2 linked regions of the Homo sapiens genome follow. The protein of the gene in region 1 interacts with the protein of each later gene in a pairwise test. Each region holds a gene or a part of one and is shown in the gene's direction. Other genes may lie near its edges. The genes, in order: NSG2 and C3orf52.

The links.
Region 2: the proteins of NSG2 (region 1) and C3orf52 interact in binary tests that used the Homo sapiens proteins (3 or more experiments, as listed by UniProt).

What each region holds. Positions count from the first base shown.
Region 1 is NC_000005.10:174,104,706-174,109,679, forward strand, and holds the end of NSG2 (neuronal vesicle trafficking-associated protein 2), read left to right. Parts: intron 1-2,608; coding exon 2,609-2,800; 3' UTR 2,801-4,474; downstream 4,475-4,974.
Region 2 is NC_000003.12:112,096,186-112,103,717, forward strand, and holds part of C3orf52 (TPA-induced transmembrane protein), read left to right. Parts: intron 1-6,652; coding exon 6,653-6,780; intron 6,781-7,532. UniProt on the Homo sapiens protein: Has a role in LIPH-mediated synthesis of 2-acyl lysophosphatidic acid (LPA). LPA is a bioactive lipid mediator involved in different biological processes, and necessary to promote hair formation and growth.

The sequences.
Region 1 (4,974 bases):
AGAGGTGTGAAGGTAGGGCTGGTGCCTCTGAGGTTCTTTGAAGCTCTGTCTCCAAGTCTCCCCTTGACCCACACTCTGATTAAACTCCTTCTCTGAAAGAACGGAACCTGCTGCATGACCTCTGGGAGTTTTCTTGCCCCTCTGAACCTCGTTTTCTTGCCTGCAAAATGGGGGCTCATAATGCCTTTTCCCAGGATTTTTGGGAGGCCTTAAGGAGAGAATTTAAGTAAAATCAGTTAACAAAGGGCCTATTAGATAATGAACTCTCAACAAATGTTAGTTGCAATAAAGACAGAGTCTGTTTCAGAGTGAACACAGCTGATAATATTTATAATTACCATTTGCTGAGTATCTCTAATACATCAGACCCTTTGCTAGATGTTTCCTTAAACATTATCTCAATTGAGCTGTACAACCATTCTGAGAAATAGGGTTTCTTTGGCTCCCATTTCACATATGAGGAATTAAATGTAGAGAGTGTTTAGTTAAGAAGGTTGTCCAAGACATCACAATAATTATGTTTTGATGTGGGGAGATCAAATAGGAAGTGTGCCAGCCTGAAAATGTGTATACTTCGGTTCTGCACTGCCTAGATTACACTCCAATCTGACCGCCTCTAGCTGGTTGACTCACCTATCACCTGGTTGCCTCTCTGGGCCACTGCTCACAGCCAATGACTGTTTATTTCCTCCATTATATACTTGCATCTCTTTTCTCTTATATCAAAAGTCTTGGCTCCTAACAACGTTCACGTAATGATGTATTTGCCTTATCCTACAATATACATAGAACAGTCACAAAATAGCACCAATGTTACTACTAAGAGGTAATGAACCTGGAGACTACTGAACGAACGTGGAGGTTTCTCCGCAACTCCATGTGTCCTTAGAATACACTCCACCAAGGGTATAATCTGACTTCCTAGACTTCCATGGAGGGGGTTCAGATCTGCCTTCCTAGATTACACTCCAAGTGGTCAGAAGCTGAGGTTCTGAGACCATCCTGACCAACGTGGAGAAACCCCGTCTCTACTAAAAATACAAAATTAGCCAGGCGTGGTGGCTCATGCCTGTAATCCCAGCTACTTGGGAGGCTGAGGCAGGAGAATCACTTTAACCTGGGAAGTGGAGGTTGTAGTGAGCCGAGGCCGCGCCATTGCACTCCAGCCTGGGGGGACAGAGCGAGACTCTGTCTCAAAAAAAAAGAAGCTGAGGTTCTGGAAGACTCAAAACAATGGGAACAGTAGGGGACAGTTGAATAAACTGTGACACATCCACCCAGTGGACGTCACTACAACTGGGAAAATGAGGAAGGCAGGCCTCCATACACGGAAAGAGAATGCTCATTAAGACAGTAAGGATGAGTGATGGAAGGAAGGTCCTGCCTATGTGTGGGCAAAGGGGAGGAGAGTGCTATTTGCTTATTGTTTTGGAAAGAAATTCAGGAAGGATACATTTTAAAAATTAATAAAAATGGTTCATCAGGAGGAAGGGATGGACGCAAGGCTTCTTCGGATCTATCTTCTTAAATATTTGTCCTTGAAATATGTAAATGTTTGACATATTTAAAAATAAATACATGAGAAAAAACAAGAGGTTCGTTGTTTAAAGAACCTAGCTCTATATCAAGTTAAGGACATAAACGTGCAAAGAAAATAAATATTTCAACCGGTTGTAGATGACAGCATGTTCGCCTCACACCTTTGGTGGAGTGTATTCTAGGGACACATGGAGTTGCAGAGAAACCTCCAAGTTCGTCCGGTAGTCCCCAGGTTCATTGCCTCTTAGTAGTCATATTGGTGCTATTTTGTGACTGTTCTATGTTTATTGTAGGATAATGCAAATACATCATTACATGAATGTTGTTAGGAATGAAGCCTTTTTTTTTTTTTTTTTTTTTTTTTTTTTGCGACGGAGTCTCACTCTGTCGCCCACGCTGGAGTGCAGTGGTGCCATCTCGGCTCACTGCAATCTCTGCCTCCTGGGTTCAAGCGATTCTTCTGCCTCAGCCTCCTGAGTAGCTGGGATTACAGGTGTGCACCACCATGCCCAGCTATTTTTTGTATTTTTAGTAGAGATGGGGTTTCACTCTGTTGGTCAGGCTGGTGTTGAACTCCTGACCTCATGATCTGCCTGCCTCAGCCTCCCAAAGTGCTGGAATTACAGGCGTGAGCCACCGCATCCGGCAAGACTTTTGATATAAGAGAAAAGAGATGCAAGTATAAAATACAGGAAATAAATAGTCATTGGCTGTGAACAACAGCCCAGAGAGGCAACAAGGGGACAGGTGAATCAGCCAGATAGAGGGAGTCTGTGGGGGTCTCTACAGCATCCACTACAGCCGGACAGTCAGTATGCAGAGAAGGCTGGCCTTGAATCAGTGTCAATATCAGGTTCAGGTCGTCTGGCTTCTTCTAAGTGGAGCTTTGCTGTTTGTGCTGGTGCTGGTGTTGGGAAGGCTGCTGCGTGCCAGGCCCAGGTCAGGAGCTGTCACCTGCCCTCTGGCTGACAGCCCGATGCAGCTGCACTCCAGTCAGGGTGGCTGTGTTGCTGGGCAGGTTGGGAGCAGTTTGCTGAATGACCCCTGACTCTGTCTCTTTCTTCCCCAGCACAAACGCTGTATCCCAGCCTCCCTGGATGCTTACTACTCCTCCCAGGACCCCAATTCCAGAAGCCGCTTCTACACAGTCATCAGCCACTACAGCGTGGCCAAGCAGAGCACTGCCCGGGCCATCGGGCCGTGGCTGTCAGCAGCCGCTGTCATCCATGAGCCCAAGCCGCCCAAGACCCAGGGCCACTAGAGGCCTGCCCCAGCCAGAATGGGGGGCGGGGTGGAGAGGAGGACCCCCATTGGCTAAGCCAAGCTCCAGTTACAAGACAACACTGTACTCCTGGGATATGGGGGCGGGGGCGGGGCAGGGCAGGGTGGGGGGAAGAACGCACCAAAAACGTGGTGTGTGCTGGAGTTGTCTGAACCGATATTTCTTTTTGTTCCTTGGTATTGTTGATTCGTCGCCGAGTCAGGCTCATGTACAAAGGCATGTTTCGTGTTGATTGTTCCCATGTAAGATATTTTTAAAGCCACTGCTTATTCTTTGTTAGGAAAATGTAACAGCAGAAAAGGAAAGAAACAAAGAACATGAACAAAAAGCATTAAACTGGCTCCATCAGAAGACGTTGAAGGGCAGTGAAGAGCACAGACTCTGTGGGCTTCTTAGATAAGAAAACGTAGCTTCAGTGGGGGCTCCAGGGTTGCAGAGTATGAGTGACACAGACCGGGACTATTCCATTAGCCTGTGGTCTGCAGGGTAGGCCCGCAGGAAATGAGGAATGGCCGAGCTGGAGAGAAGAGCTGATTTTGGCATTACTAAGCCCAGAACGCACATAACCCATAGTGAAATGTGCTGGCCTCTGGTGCATTTTGCAAGATGAGCACAAACTTTCTGGGCCTCCATCCTAGGACCTGGGCAGACCCACATGGCCTGGGCTCTGAATGCCCACCCTGCGACGGTGGGTTCTGCATCAGCAAACGCTGAGGAGTGGGCAGATTTTCTTTGTCTTTTGCTTGCATTTTCTAGATCCACACCTGGATACTGCCCATGTTGACGAGACAGCAGCAGGGGGAGAGGGAGGGAAGGAAGGTGCGGCTGCAAGAAGGAAGGCACGGGACAGGCATGTGACACTAGGCCACAAGCGATAAGCACAGGCACCTGACTTTTAAGTTTTTGTTTGTTTGTTGTTTCCCAAAGTGCTGATAACAATAACAACAACAATAGGATTCCAACCAGGAGCCTCAAGTGACAGCCAGGAAGAGACCTGAAGGTTGGGGCCACCACAATGCCAAATCGTTTCTAAAGGAAGCTGAAAAATGGGACTGTCTTTTGCCCACTTCGTTGTGTTAAAAGGGGACATTTGTCCAAACTCCCCAACCGAGTTCTAGAAGCTCCTGACAAGGAGGCAGCATCCAGCCTTGACCAGGCCTCCCAGTTCCCTGGAACCGTATCAGGCATTCGCCTGCCTCTCACAAATGTTTCAGGGAGGCCAGTTCTGCAGGGTGTCAGCTCCAGGACCCACAGGGCCAGAACCAGCTGGGAGAATTGGTTATTTGAGATGTGGTACTGCTTCCTCACAAGTCTCCCACAGGCCATGTAAAGGGTATTTTTTTGTGGCTTGCTGTGTTGCTGAGATCATCGTATGCAACAGCTGGGTAATAAGACTAGCATAGCTCAAACTATCCTGCCAAACGCTCTCATCTGATTTTTCCTCCCTTCTCCCCCAACCTCCAATCACCCTGAGTCACCTGTAAATTCATTTGTCATTCAAAGCGGAATAACAAGTTGTCCCTAGCAAAACCGCTGAGCGCTTTATAATTTTGTGGTGTATTTTTGTCAGTAGGTAGCAGAGGCGGAAGTATTTTTTGGTGTAATTCTTGAAATTTTCTGACAGGAAACAAATAAAGATAGATGTGTCTGAGAGTCTTGACCTTCCTTTGCAATGTTCTTTATCTCCTGCTCAGTGAGCCTGATGGGGAAGATGCTGGGGGTGGGGGTCCCGGAGGGCAGGGTGAGCCCTACAGTGTCCTGTTGGGCTGGGGCTAGAATTGGACTGTAGGGGAATGTCCATCCTCAGGCAACTGGGGCCTGAGATGGTGTTGTGGTCCTAAGGAAGGACCAAGAGGTGTACCTGGCTGCTTATCTGCCAGCTCAATGTCCTTCATGCAGCAGATGCCTACTGGGCAGCTTCTAGGGCCAGGCTGTGCTGGGCATGGGGGATACAGAAACGGATGACAGAGAATCATTGCCCTGAGGTCTGGCGATGGAGTCAGATATGAAAATAAAGGTGTGATAATGCCTTTGACTTAATGCAACTGGTGATTAGCTGCAACTGAGGAGGAAGATGTTGAGGACCCCTTTTTAAATTGCTAATTTAGGACTTAGCATGACCTTGGCAGGTAGGGGTCATTGACCCCATTAGA
Region 2 (7,532 bases), on another chromosome or scaffold:
GGCAGGTCTTTGCAAAACTACCCAGAAAGGCTGAGGAAGCTGAGAGGCTAAAGAAAAACTGACAAATCCAGTTACTCAGAAAGAAACATTTAACAGGGTTTTAGGAACAGAAGCCATGCGTTGGGCAGCAGTGAGAGGAGATGGTGCATTCCTGCACCATTACCCCAAAGGCCCAGGGCTTAAATACCACAGAAAAAGGGTATGCATGCTTCAGAAGGGATGTGTTTTATAATTGCATAAGGGCAAGATTTATGGCATGTAGATAACGTTAAGGTTGTTTAGACCTGAGGGTGAGATTTATGGTAAGTATGTGCTCTTATACATGCAACAGTAGATGAAATAGAAATCTTAGAGGCATTTCCAGAGCTGGGATTAATCAGAAGTTAATACAGTGAAATAATAACTAAGACGGAATTTCTTTAGCCTTCAAAACTGTGCAGTTGGGGTGGACATAAAATGGGACAGTGAAAGCATCTCAGAACAGAAAGTTGGGGAGGGGACACCTGGGTACCCAGGGCAGGGTGTCCAGTGGGGAGTTATATTTTTTCACTCGAATTAAGAATTGTCAGCATGTGGTGATAATAAAAGCAGACCAACTTGTAGTAGGTTTTATTATTGCTGCTCATTCTCTACAGACTGTGCAGCCTTCATTGCCTGTACATGGGTTGGGCTTGCCCACTACTCTTCCCTTGTATGCCATTGAAGAATGACAAATTCAGGATCATGGCTTAGCTTAAAGCACTGAGTAGGGGCTTTGTATGTGCTAGGGAAAAGAGGCTACCTGTCCACCAGACTCACAATCGACATGGAAATTTTTTTAATGTCCATTTTTATGAGTGGAACCCAGGGAATTCTGTTATTTGAGACTCTTTAGGGAAAAGGTATTAATGGATTCTTTCCTTCCTCATAAGGAATTATAAATTTCTTGATTTGAAAGGTACAGAAACAAAAGCCTTCATCTTTTTCTCAAAGTCATTTTCTTTCTGGATAATTTGGAGGATCAGTTGAGTGTTCTCAAGGGTTCTCCTTTCTTCAATAATTCACCCTAGTCATGGAGAGGTGAGACCCTGAATAACACTTTACTAATGAAGTTTTGGTTGGGGCAAAATATTTTAAATATTTCAAAAACAAAACTGTGACAAGTAGGTGGATGCTTAGAAACATGATTTAAATTGATAACATCCTGGAGACCCTCATGTGATATCCCCCAACATTATACCCCAGATTCTTGCCTGACCCTAATCTCTTAATTTATACACCTTTTATGAGTAGGAACGCTGTGGTACTGAGATATAAGCAACGACTTCCTAAGTGACGTTGTGTTGAGTGGATTTGTTTGCCTTTCAGTTGTGAATAAGAGCTACATTTTATGATGTCATGTGGTTCTGGCAGACTGACAGTTTTCACAGGGTAATGCTCCCTGGTGTAGGGTGACTCATGGGAAAATCCTAGGCAGACAGCATTAACAAGCTATAAGCTGCCAAGGTCCTTTGGGGCAGGAACATGAGAGCAGTGCTAGACCCAGTACCTTGAAATTTCTTTCCATTTTCACCTGTTTATCTTTTCTTCAAATCGCTGATGTTTCTCTACCAAGATGGACACCCTTACCTGTGGTCTCCATATAATATCTTTCAGCTTCCTCTGACCCAGAGATCTTCAGATATCTCCTCCTCTCTCTAAGCATCCTCAGGTTCTTCTTAATTTATGCCTAGTGTTCCATTATTGGAATGCTAATCATGTAGAAGTTATTTATATCTTACTGCTCAAGGTCATCACCAAAGTCTGAATGCAAAAATTCGAAAAGTTCAACCTCAGGTATAAATGGGTTAACTCTTCAAATGCACTAGCATCCTCTCTCCTTCAAAGCAATCTTCCATCAGGATTCTTGCTACTTCATTTAGATATGTGTTTTTCTCTCCCTTCTTTCACTGGCACACTTCCAGAAAGAAAGGTCTGCATTTGAATCTTGCCTCCTGCAGACTCCCAAACCTCTTGTATCTATTGGTTCCCAATTTTTCTTCCCAAGATTACTAGCAATTGTCTGATCGTGGAAGCCAACATTTCTCTGTCTCCTGCCTTATTGTCAGCTTTTAGCTCTGCCAACTTCATTATACTCTTCTGAGTCTATAGAACTCCTGGACTTTAGGTTGATTTTGCTATTTTTGCTCTTGGCATCTGCATTGTGGGTTCATGAGGCTTCTCTTCAGCTTCGTGACTTTTCACATTCTTCATTCTTTTTCTTGGAGAGCTCATTCACTCCCAGGACAGCAGCCATGCCTCCAAGAAGGTGACTCCTAGATCTACATCTGTACAATTTTCCTGAGTTTTGGAAGTACTCTTGGCTAGAGATATTTATCTAAAAATAACTGTCATCATCTCAATTATTATACATGTGAAACTACCATTTGTTTGTATGCTATTTTAGTCTGCTTGGGCTACTATAACAGAATATCATAAACTAGGTAGCTTATACATAACAGAAATTTATTGCTTACAGTTCTGGAGGCTGGGAACTCCAAGATCAAAGTGTCAGCACACATTTGCTGTCTGGTGAGGGCACACTTTTTATTTCGTAGATCATGCCTTCTAGCTATATCTTCTATGGTATAAGGGGAAAGGCAGCTTTCTGGGCCTCTTTTATAAGGGCACTAATACCATTCAAAAGTGCTCTCCCCTCATGATCTAATCACCTCCCAAAGGCCCCACCCTCTAAGACCATCTGATATTGTTTGGATTTGTGTCCCTGCCCAAATCTCATGTTGAATGATAAGAGGGGCCTGGTGGGAGGTGATTGGATCATGGGGGTAGATTTCCCCTTTGCTATTCTCATGATAGTGTGTGAATTCTCATGAGATCTGATGGTTTAAAAGTGTGTGGCTCTTTGTTGTTTGCTCTTTCTCTCTCTCTCCTGCTCCCCCATGGTAAGACATGCTTGTTTCCCCTGAGCCTTCTGCTATAATTGTAAGTTTCCTGAGGGCTCCCATCCTTGCTTCCTGTTAAGCCCGCAGAACTGTAAGACAATTAAACCTCTTTTCTTCATAAATTGCCCAGTCTCAGGTAGTTCTTTATAGCAGTGTGAGAATGGACTAATACACGCTCACATTGGTGGTTAGATTTCAACATATGCATTTTTCGGGGAGACACAAACATTCAGACCATAACATATCCTTCATCCCAATTTGTTCATCTTTTCCCCATTCACTCACCCTTTATATAAGACCAAGTTTATTTTAGTTCTGCTACTATCCAATTGTGTAACTTTAGGCAAACTTGTCAAGCCTCTGGGCCTGTTTTCCCATTTATAAAATGTAAAGGATTTCGGAATCTGAGTCTATAAATATACCTTGACCCTAATACATGCTAATTCATTGACCTGAACAAATTATGCATTTTCTCTAAGCCTCAGTGTCTTCATTTAAAAATGAAAACAACAATATTTAACTCATTGGGTTAATGTGAGGATTATGTGAGGAAAATATATTCATAAGGTGCATAGTAGAATGTTTGCACGTCATACTTAATACAGTAGCTATTATTCTTCCTGTTCCTGGGCTTGATATCTTGGAAACCTTTTTGATTTCTTCTTTCTCATATCTAGATAATGGCCAAATCTTACCAGTTATTCCTTGGTAGTGTCTTGATAGCAACTTTCCCACTTACTACAAGGCACCATGCAGGATACTTTATGCATGTTGGTTTTCATCTTTACTATCACCTACATTGTAGGTGTTGATATTTCTGTTGGAGAAGTAGCTTCAGAGATTTAAGTGACTTGCTCAAGGTCACCTGGCTAACAAATAGCCAACAGGAGTTCAGACTGAGTCTGGCTGCCTTTAAAGCCAGCTCTGTTTCTACTATCCTGGGCTTTCTCATTAATTTTTTCTTTTTGTTCCTTCTGCTGTCAGTCAAATCAGTCTGTTCCAAACTTGTGCCTGTTGGCCTCTCTGCCTCATCTCTCCTCGTTTCATTTATCCCATCCATGACCACCCGATTAACCTCCATTAAACACCAGCCTCTACTTTCTTCGTGGGCGATGTTTAACAACACTCCATTACCCCTTGAAGGTATCTGGCGTTTAAGGGCTCTCTCTCTAGCTTAATTTCTTATATTCTAGCCAAAGAACTGTTTTCATGTTCCTTCAACATACAACACATGTTTTTGTGATTTTTAAAAATATGTTTTTTCTACACGAATAAGTATAGCCCAGATTATCTCATTAGTGACATAAAAACTCTCCTGACTGAGTAAGCCTGTCGTTGTTACTATTGTTATTATTTTGACACACACAACTATTTAGATAGGTCTTGGTACAGATTCATGATTTGAATGATACACATTAAATATGTGTCAGAGCTATTATGGGAGGCCTGTTTTCACACTTGGCATCTCTTCTCAGTGTCCTTGAGTTTAGCAGTTATTTGAACCTTGTATCTATCCTCTTGGCATCCCCTATTGTTTTCTGAGGCATTGATATCTATTATGGAAATCTACATGGTGGGTATAGAGCTCAAAGATACCCATTGAAATATTATTTATAGAAGTAGAAAGCTAAAAATGATAAATGTCATATTTAAGAAAATAGGTGAGCCTATTATGAACATTATGAAGCCATTGAAATAATCTTTGCAAGGAATTTTAAGCACATGGGAAATGGCTTTTGATATGTTTACAACAGAACAATCAGGATAAGTAAGCAATAATGGCAGCAAACAACAAAAAGCAGGATATAAATTACCTATTTGTTAGGACCTTAAATATATAATATCAAGTATAGGAGGAAAAAACCCTCTTGATTGCAAGATTATTCGTATTTTTTTCTTTGCTTTGTTACAATTTCCTGCACTTTGCAAAATTTTTTGCTATGAAGGCGTAACTTTTTTTTTAAATCATACAACATAATGTCATGACTTATAACAATTAAGGACGCAGGGATAATTCCCTACGTTTGGGGGTCCCCAAGATTACTCCTAGATTCAACAATTTGCTAGGAGGATACACAGGACTCAGCATGCAGTCCTACTGATCACTATGATCTATTACAGCAAAAGGATACATTACATCAAATGATTAATTACAGCAAAATCCAGAGAAAACCAGGAGCAAGCTTTCAAGTGTCCTCTCTCAGTGGAGTTGCACCAGACTTGTTTAATTCCTCCAGCGATAGGCTGTGACAACACATGTGAGATCTCATCTACTAGGGAAGCTTATTGGAGATTCAGTACCCGGGGTTTTCACTGGGGCTTGGTCATATACGTAGCCTCTGCCTACTATGCACTAAAAATCCAGACTCCCAGAAGGAAAGGAGATGTTAGCCACATTGTACAAACAGTTGAGGCACAGTGAGCCCCTCTCATCAGGGGAAAATCCAGGTTCTCAGACACCAGCCAGGACCAATTTTGAGGAGGCCTTTCTTATGCTAGCAATCTCAGGCCTGCTATATTAACTCTTTTCTGCACATTCCTTGCTCGTAATGCCTCGTATTTCCAGATGTCATCACAGAATAAGTAACCGGAATACCAGGAATCTTCCTCCTTTTTACCTGTCCTTCCATCTCAAACACTGAATTTATTCCACTATGGTCTTAAAGTCTATGGCAATATAAGCACCTGGTTCCTCCCACCTACGCCTTTCTCAGGGCCAGAGAGGTAGTCTCCTGTGTGGGACCAGCTGGTGAGGCTGTTGTGGAGCCAGGGGAGCATAATTAGCACAGTAGTGCTAGCTTCTGGCGCCTGGCTCCTCACTTTGTGTGATTTTCCTTTAGTTCCAACTACTTAAAAATCAATTAGATGGCAGTCATTAAACACAAGCAGCAATACATAACTAATTGTCCCAGGAATGTAATTCCTGCACACCCTGGGGCTCTGAATATAGTTTAGCTTCCCTTCTGCAAGCAGAGCATGTCAACATACCTGTCCTGTGAGACATAGTCTAGAGTGATGACTTCATGCTCATCCTCTGTCTTCCTGGGGAGACTTCAAGACATGGACTCGCATGCTCATTTTCTAGTCACCTCTGTTGTTTGAGTCGATGATGTCACTTCTTCATGGTGGTCTTTGCCAGCACAGAATTGGGAGGTGAGTCAATGCAGTTACTTGCTCCCACTTCCTGTCCTTCATCACTCATTGTTTTAGGCAAACTCGTCAACCCTCTGGGTCTGTTTTCCCATTTATAAAATGTAAATGATTTCGGAATCTGAGTCTATAAATATACCTTGACCCTAATACATGCTAATTCATTGACCTGAACAATTCCTGCACACCCTGGGGCTCTGAGTGTAGTTTAGCCACCCCCACCGTCTCCCAGTACCTGCCTTGACACCTGTGTACCTAGCTAAGCTGCAGGTTTAGTCTAATAAGGAAGTTCATATTCTTCCTACTCCCTTGGGCCCTTTCCCCAGTCTGTATTCAGTGGAATCTGAGACCCCTTTGCCATAAAACAAACTTTTTATTTTGATAGAGGCAAACCCCTGTATTTTACTCAATTTTGCTGAGTGGAGAAAGCATTTCTGCTTACACTTGCTTGCTGTGTTCAGCCTTTACCCTTGATGCTCATAGTTATGTTTAAGTATGGCAGTCAATGGAATAAATAAGTTTATTATTATATGCAGGTGTTTACTTTTGTTTTTCATTTCCACCTCCCCTACTTTCTTTAGTAACTTATGTTGATGAAGATGAAAATGAAATACTTGAATTATCATCAAACAAAACATTCTTCATCATGCTGAAGATTCCAGAGGAGTGTGTTGCTGAAGAGGAATTGCCTCACCTGCTCACCGAAAGGGTAATTCCATCTTATATATTGCCTAAGGAGTTCTTGACATTAGAATATGAATTTTGCTAGAATAATTGGCATAGAGCTATAGAGTAAGTAGCTTCAATTTTGGATTCTTTGTCTGGATTTTAGCAGAAAATGATGCTTATAAATATATTTTATGACCAAATACCACATGTTCTCACTTACAAGTGGGAGCTAAATGATGAGAACACATGGACACGAAGAGAGGAACAGACACTGGGGCCTACTTAAGGGCGGAGGGTGGGAAGAGGGAGAGGAGCAGGAAAAAAAGTAACTATTGGGTACTAGGCTTAGTACCTGGGTGACAAAATAATCTGTACAACAAACCGCCATGACACGAGTTTACCTATAGAAGAAACATGCACATGTATTCTCCTGAGCCTAAAATAAAACTTTGTTAAAAAAATAAGTAAATATCTTTACTGTAGTGCAAAGCCAGAGGGAAGATTCCTGGCCTCCAGCTGCATAAATGCTGGAGGACACTGTTCTTTTTACTCCCTTAGGTCCTACATTTAATTCAACCTATAGTATTCATTGAGGGTCTGTGATGTGCTAGACAGCATGCCAAGTGCCAGGGCCACATTGTCTGTGCCTTCAGGGGTCTCACAGTCCAAGTACAGGAAGTGACTAAAAAGATCGTTTTATAATAGTGTGGTATGTTCTAGTGTGTTGTACAGTGGCAAAGGAGGGGCATCTGAGCTACCTCAGGTGAAGATGAAGGCATGAAAGGCCTGTTA